Homo sapiens: one gene and its partner. The protein of the gene in region 1 purifies or fractionates together with the protein of each later gene. This does not show direct contact. Each region holds a gene or a part of one and is shown on either strand. Other genes may lie near its edges. The genes, in order: SGIP1 and HEPHL1.

Region 1 (3,834 bases):
TCAGCAAATGTGTGTGACAAGTAACTGAATCACTTGTGGCCTCAGCTTCCTCATTATACGGGAAATGAGTTATATGTTTGTACACTCTTGCCTGATTCTTTTTATCATTGAGATGAGCATTTGCAAGATAGATTGGGTAAGTGGTCTGTATACAGGCCTCTGAGCAAAGCTAAGACTCTCATAGGGATATAAAACTTCTTAGCTTATAGAGACTCTGCTCTTCTTCTGTATTATAACTACCAAAATTATCATTTAAACTCCAGGATCATCTTATAAGTGAAGTGAAATCTTTGATGATTTAAATGCTCATGGATGAAATATTATGAATGCTGAAAAGGCAGCATGGTAATTTTAGTATCACTCTTTTCTGCTTAGTTGGTGATAAAGACCATGTTTACATTTGGCCAAATATTTCACTGGATAATTTCTGAGAAACTACTGGTCAAAGTAATTCAAAAGTAAATAAACGTATTCAGTTCCTTAATTGCCTTAACTGACTAATTTAGACAAAGCTGGTTTCATAGAAAGGGATATTAAGTTTGAGTTAATAAATAATTCACTCTTTAAAGCTCCCAATTATCATCGCAATTAGTTAATATTACTGAGCACTCACTGAGATTGATAGCAACACAGTAGCTCCTCCTCGTGGATATTAATCTACCAACACCATAGCATTCAGAACTGTATTTGTATGAAAACCACACTACTGTTAATAGATTCATAATAATCTCTACAAATTGTCAAAAAATGGCTGTACATATCAGACGACAATTTGCTAAGATGCTTCGTGTAGGGTTTATATTTGTTTTAAGATGCTACTCAATCATTTTTCTTCCCAAATGAACAGTGATAATACACAAAATGATGCCAATACCAAGGAATTCTGGGTAAACATGCCAAATTTGATGACTCACCTAAAGAAAGTGTCTGAACAAAAACCCCAGGCTACATATTATAACGTTGACATGCTCAAATATCAGGTAAGCCTATTTACATGATCGGTATCTCTTCCACATGACATATTTGTTTTCTAAAGTACCTACTATTGAATAAAAGTAACTAAAGTAACACTTCTTTTAACAGTATTTAAAAGCTATAACTCATTTTTTTAAATGGAAACTTTAAAAGATAACTTGGGGACTACTGACAAAAATATTCATACATATTCTTATTAGTTTAAGCTTACAAGTAAAATATTTTATCACAAAATTAGAGAAATGTGCCACAAAAAAATGAAGTTGCAAAACATTATACTAATTAAGATTATAAGTTTATATTGATAAACAAGATGATTATAATTTTGTTAAGAACATTACTATACTAAAACCTCTTATTTTAAATGATTCAAGGTACACAATCTGCTTTTGTTTTTCTAGTAAGATAGTCCTATGAAAGAATTCTAATAAAATCTAACACTAAGAAATAGTTCAATAATAAAGGAATGTTTGATACTTACAATATATGAGAACTTTCTTTTTGTATCTAGAATTGCCCTTATCTCAAATTATTATTGATATACTAAATAAGCCTAATTCATACCAGGATCCTGATAGTGCCTGAGTCTCTCATTGGTTCCCAGCCACTTGACTGCCTAGATTTTTTTGGTTTTTTTTTTTTTTTTTGAGACAGAGTCTCACCCTATCACCCAGGCTGGAGTGCAGTGGCACAATCTTGGCTCACTGCAATGTCCACCTCCTGTGTTCAAGCGATTCTCCTGCCTCAGCCTCCTGAGTAGCTAGGAATACAGGCATGCACCACCAAGCCCTGCTAATTTTTTGTATTTTTAATAGAGACGGGATTTCACCCTGTTGGCTATGCTGGTCTGGAACTCCTGACCTCAGGTGATCCGCCCGCATCAGCCTCCTAAAGTGCTGGGATTACAGGCATGAGCCACCACACCAGCTGACTCCCTAGATTTTTTTAAACTTTTTTATTTTTTAAATTGACAGGTACAATTGTATGTCTGTATTAGGTACAACATGATATTTTGAATATATGTACGTTATGGAATGACTAAACTAACATACGTATTACCTCACATAGTTATTTTTGTGATGAGAACACTTTCCATTCACTTTAGCATTTTTCAGGAATACAGTATATGGTTATTACCTACAGTCACCACCTTATGCAATCAATCTCTTGAATTTATTCCTCTCATCTAACTGAAATTTTGTGTCTTTTGACCAACATCTCTCTAAACAAACCCCCACCCCACCCCACCACCACTACCTCAGCCTCTGGTAACCACCATTCTACTCTCTAATTCTATAAGATCAACTTTTATTTTTATGTTATTTTATTTTATTTTATTTTATTTTATTTAGTTTTTTGAGATGAAGTCTCCCTCTGTTGCCCAAGCTGGAGTGCAGTGGCACGATCTCGGCTAATAGCAACATCCACATCCTGGGTTCAAGCGATCCTCCTGCCTCAGCCTCCCAAGTAGCTGGGATTACAGGCATGCACCATCATCCTGGCTAATTTTTGTATTTTCGATAGAGACGGGGTTTCACCATGTTGGCCAGGCTGGTCTTGAACTCCCAGCCTCAGATGATCCCCGTTCCTTGGCCTCCCAAAGTGCCACTGTGCCCAGCCAAGATCAACTTTTAAATATTCCACATAAGAGTGAGATCGTGTGGGCCGGGCGCGGTGGCTCACGCCTGTAATCCCAGCACTTTGGGAGGCCGAGGCGGGTGGATCATGAGGTCAGGAGATCGAGACCATCCTGGCTAACAAGGTGAAACCCCGTCTCTACTAAAAATACAAAAAATTAGCCGGGCGCGGTGGCGGGCGCCTGTAGTCCCAGCTACTCGGGAGGCTGAGGCGGGAGAATGGCGTGAACCCGGGAGGCGGAGCTTGCAGTGAGCTGAGATTGCGCCACTGCAGTCCGCAGTCCGGCCTGGGCGACAGAGCGAGACTCCGTCTCAAAAAAAAAAAAAAAAAAAAAAAAAAAAAGAGTGAGATCGTGTGGTATTGGTCTTTCTGTGCCTGGCTCATTTCATTTACCACGTTTTTAATGCATTATAATTTTTTATTAAATATGTTCAGATTATTTTTCTTCAAATGAAGGAAGTTGTACTTTAATAAAAATCAGGACATCTCAAACTTGACTGTATTTCTCAATCAAATGCTGGTTCTGAATTGATGCTAAAAAGAAATATATGTGTATACATATTTAAATAATATAAATATTTATTTATAATATTTACATATACAACCTAGATACATATAAAACCTATACAATCTATAACATATAAAATAACACATTATATTCATAAATATAAATATTTATACAAATATTTTAAATATAAATATTTATACAAATATTTTAAATATAAATATTTATACAAATATTTTAAATATAAATATTTATACAAATAGTTTAAAATATTATATAAAATATGCAAATATATAAATATGATATATGTGAATATAATACGATATATTATATGTGAATATAATATGATATATGTGAATATAATATATAATATATGTGAATATATTATATGTGAATATAATATATTGCGTATTATATGTGAATATAATATATTGCGTATTATATGTGAATATAATATATTGCGTATTATATGTGAATATAATATATTGCGTATTATATGTGAATATAATATATTGCGTATTATATGTGAATATAATATATTGCGTATTATATGTGAATATAATATATTGCGTATTATATGTGAATATAATATATTGCGTATTATATGTGAATATAATATATTGCGTATTATATGTAAATATAGGTAGAGATCATTATTAAATATACATATATGTATTTTGGGGGGTGTTAGGACCTAGCAGATATATATATTAAAT
Region 2 (3,834 bases), on another chromosome or scaffold:
CATGTCTGTGTAGAGGGCAGGGAAATATAAGATGAAGATAAACTGCAAAATAATGTTAGCAGAGAGTGTGGTCAGATCCAACATGTGAGATCATAAGAGTCACAATAAGGACAAGAAATATTGTTTGAGCTTGAGAAGGAACGTTCTTCACCAAGGAGAAAAAAAGATGAGATTGAGACAAATGTCACTTGGAAAAAGGAAGGGTGGAGACGGAGATTGCACATTCAGTTTGGTGAAGCTGCACCCTCCCTATTAGATTAATAATTTTTAATACCATCTGGATGTGCTTCTATATACATTCTTTCACTCTGGGTCCCTGGCACCACCTATGTCTTGGGTCCTTCCTTTTCACTCTTCATTTCCACAGAAGCCCTTCATATACAAGGTGTGTTCAAAACAAATGGCATGATGAGGGGGAATGAAAATGAGCTTGAATCCCAACTCTCTCACTTGCTGGTTGTGAAATGGGGAAGAGACTTAACCTCTCTGAACCAGTTTCCTCTGCTGTAAAGCAGTGACCATGGTAGAGCTATCATAAGGATTCAATGAGAAGAGGTGTAGAGCCACACACACAGCAACTGGGAGAGTGGTGCTGAATCAATGACAGTTATGATTATTTCTGGTAAAGCGTAAAGCTTTGTTAGAAAAGAGGAAAATGTGACCAGCCAAGGTCTTTCCCCCAGGGCTCCTGCTCTCCAAAGAACCCCGTGAGACGGCAGAGCTACCACGAGAGCTGATCAAGTGCTCTCAAGTGGCAGGCACTGTGTCTGAGTATGTGCAGATCCTAAGTCCCAAAGATAACTCCGCAGTCCTCATCCACAGAAACTTATTGGAAAAATGGGTCTTTGCAGATGTGATTAAGTTAAGGATCTTGAGATGGGGAGATCATCCTGGATTAGCTGGGTGGGCCCTAAACACCATCAAAAGCATCCTTATAAGTAAGAGGCAAAGATAGGCTAGACACACAGAGAGAAGACGACGATATGAAAATGGAGGCAGAGATCAGAGTGATGCAGCCACAGCCAAGGAATGCTGGCAGATACCAGAACCTGGAAGAGTCAAGGAATGGCCCCTCCCTTAGAACCTCCAGAGGCATTGTGGCCCTGACAACACATGCAGTTCAGACATCTGGCCTCCAAAACTGGGGGAGAATAAATTGCTGTTGTTTGAAGCCACCTAGTTTGTAACTTGTTACAGCAGCCACAGAAAACTGATACACCCTCAAAGCAAGTACTGTCACTATCCCTATTTTACTGATGAGAAAACTGAGGCAAAGAGAGATTGAATTACTTGCCCATAAAGTGGGGCAAGAATTCTAAATGTGACAGTTGATGCCAGAGCCCCATACTTTACCAGCAAACTGGACTGCCTTGGCATCTCCCTAAGACCAAGGCTGGGCTACACTTGGCTGGAGAAATCCTCCCGATGCCACCTGATCTCCCTCCCAGAGACAGAAGATTGGTCACCCCACTTCATGGTGTGCTAACCTTTTAAAGCAATGCCTGGAGCATAGTAAATACTCAGTGACACTTAGCTAACTTATTATACTGTCAATGAGTTATCTTTCAGATCCTGCTAACCAGGCCTTGGGGGTCCATCATATGGAGGTGGGAAAAGCAAGATGGGGACTAAGAGGATGCCTGTGAATCATGGAAAACAGGAGAGAACTGAGGTAGGGGAGGGGAGCAGGGACTGCCAGCTGCCTTGCAATATTCATGCTCCCCTTCTTTCTTAGTGTCAGAGGTAAATTCTATCTTTATTCAGGCAGAAAAGTACACAGCTGAAACGTTATATTTTTTCAAGTCCTCTTTGTGGCTATGAGTATCCAATGAGATTTAAGTAAAATTGGTTGGGTAGGGTTTCAATGAGAACCCTTTGAAAGGCTGATGCAGCAAAAATTGTTCTGCTTCTACCTTTTGCCTTTCTCTCTTTCTTCCTGGAATGTAGACACGATGGCTGGAGATCCAACAGCAATCTTGTGACCATGAATGTGCTTGAGGAGGGAAACCACAAAGGGTTTAAAGCACATAGGCTAAGGATGGTGGATCAGAAATACAGAAAGCCCCTGATATCTTGTTATACCATCTATCCCACCAGCCTTGGACTGCCCACTTCTGGATTCTTCTACAAATGAATACAAAATCCTAATTTGTTAAAGACATTATACTCCAGTCTCTAGTGGCAGCCAGAAACAATCACTTACTGATATAGGGTAGAACAGCAGTTCCCAGAGATTCATATGGCATCAGTCCAAACAAAATATTTTTGGTGCTGATAAGACAGAAGTTGAGATTTGAAAGTTACCATTTGTTTAGACCATGCACTTACCAGATGATATTCTTTTCTTTATTTCAAAGCTCACAAAAACCTCTGTCTCCTCCCTGCTTCCCCTCAGTTGGTCCTTCTTTCAGATAGATGTGTGAGTTCTCTCTCACACCTATCCTAGGGCCTGCTTCTTAGAATACTCAAAGCCCCTTGCCATACACTGGGCTGATGCAGTGATGTGGCTGGGTCAACTAACAGACTCTACAAAAATGGGGTTTGAGCAGTGGCTAGCCTCACTTATGTTCAAGCGCAGTTCCACCCATGAGTTAGCGTCCATGAAAACCCTGCATTTCACTGGGAAGAAAAAGGCTGAATGTGTGTTGATGGCCTAATGAGGTCTATGGTGAGAACTGTGGCTTTAAATAAGATGACCCCACCCTACTTCCATTAAGGATCAGGCTTTACCACCAAACACACACCTTAATTAAGGACTTTATGAGCCTGAGCAGGACTGGTATAAATAGATCAAAATACTGACACCATCCCCAGGCAACTCAAAGGAGCCCAGTGTCCCCATTTACTCCAAGGAGGAGGAGAAGTATATTTATCTGGAGAAAGTATTTCTAAATAGAATCTAACTCCTAAATCCTATACTTTCTAGGAAACATTAGTGATTATAGACTCAATTATATTTTTGAACCCTATAATCAAGCATAGGTACCAAGCATAAAAGTTAATTTGCACCATCTGAGGGCTATAGAGTCTCAGCAAAATGATTTCAATTCATTTTCGATCTCGTCCTTGTGCATAAGGATGTGCCTAACTTTGGTTTCCAAATGTTTTCACATTACTGAAACTTTGGCACCCACCATCTTGTTCCCCAGATTTTTGCCCATTCCCCTTATTCAAAGATAAAACAACCAGAACAACTCAGTTGATAAGGTGATTAGCTTTTACTTCAATGATTTTGAATGCCTGCCCTGTACTGGATCCTCCATAGGATATTGTCAATGACAAAGTTCCGTGCAGGGAAGGGGGATTATTGAATATACGCCAAAACTTCTTATCTATCATCAGGGTGTTTTACTGCAGTTGCAGACATGACTAATGTACATCAAGCAATTAGAGGGCAATGCAGAGGGAAGAAAATGCAGTGTCCAAGTTCATGATAAAGACCCCAAGCTCCATGAGTGGTTAGGAAGGAAACAGATCAGTACAAGCCAGGGTCATGGGGGAAAGCTTCATGTATGAAGTGAGGAATTGGAGATAATTCTTAAAGGACAGGGGAAAAAATGGAGAAAGAAAAATAAAGACTACTTCAAAAGTTGTCACATATGCCCACGATCAGTCCCAGGTCTTCTCCAACTCTAATTTCTAGGACTGAACATTTGCAAATCATCTCTCTCCTTTCTTTCACCATTGCAAAAATCTTTCTAGAACTGGCAAGTCAGGAAAGATATTTTTCATTCAGTTTCAAAATTATTTCTAATGCTTTGGCATTACACTTCTCAAGTGACTCTAGGGATTACATTTCAACTCCCTTCTTACACAAATTAAGGAAAGTGATAT

What was found.
Region 2: the proteins of SGIP1 (region 1) and HEPHL1 purify together in Homo sapiens (affinity purification with mass spectrometry; one large-scale study listed by BioGRID and IntAct). This does not show direct contact.

The regions. Positions count from the first base shown.
Region 1 is NC_000001.11:66,732,901-66,736,734, forward strand, and holds part of SGIP1 (SH3-containing GRB2-like protein 3-interacting protein 1), read left to right. Parts: intron 1-847; coding exon 848-980; intron 981-3,834.
Region 2 is NC_000011.10:94,024,304-94,028,137, reverse strand, and holds part of HEPHL1 (ferroxidase HEPHL1 precursor), read right to left. Parts: intron 1-3,834. UniProt on the Homo sapiens protein: Is a copper-binding glycoprotein with ferroxidase activity. It oxidizes Fe(2+) to Fe(3+) without releasing radical oxygen species. May be involved in the regulation of intracellular iron content.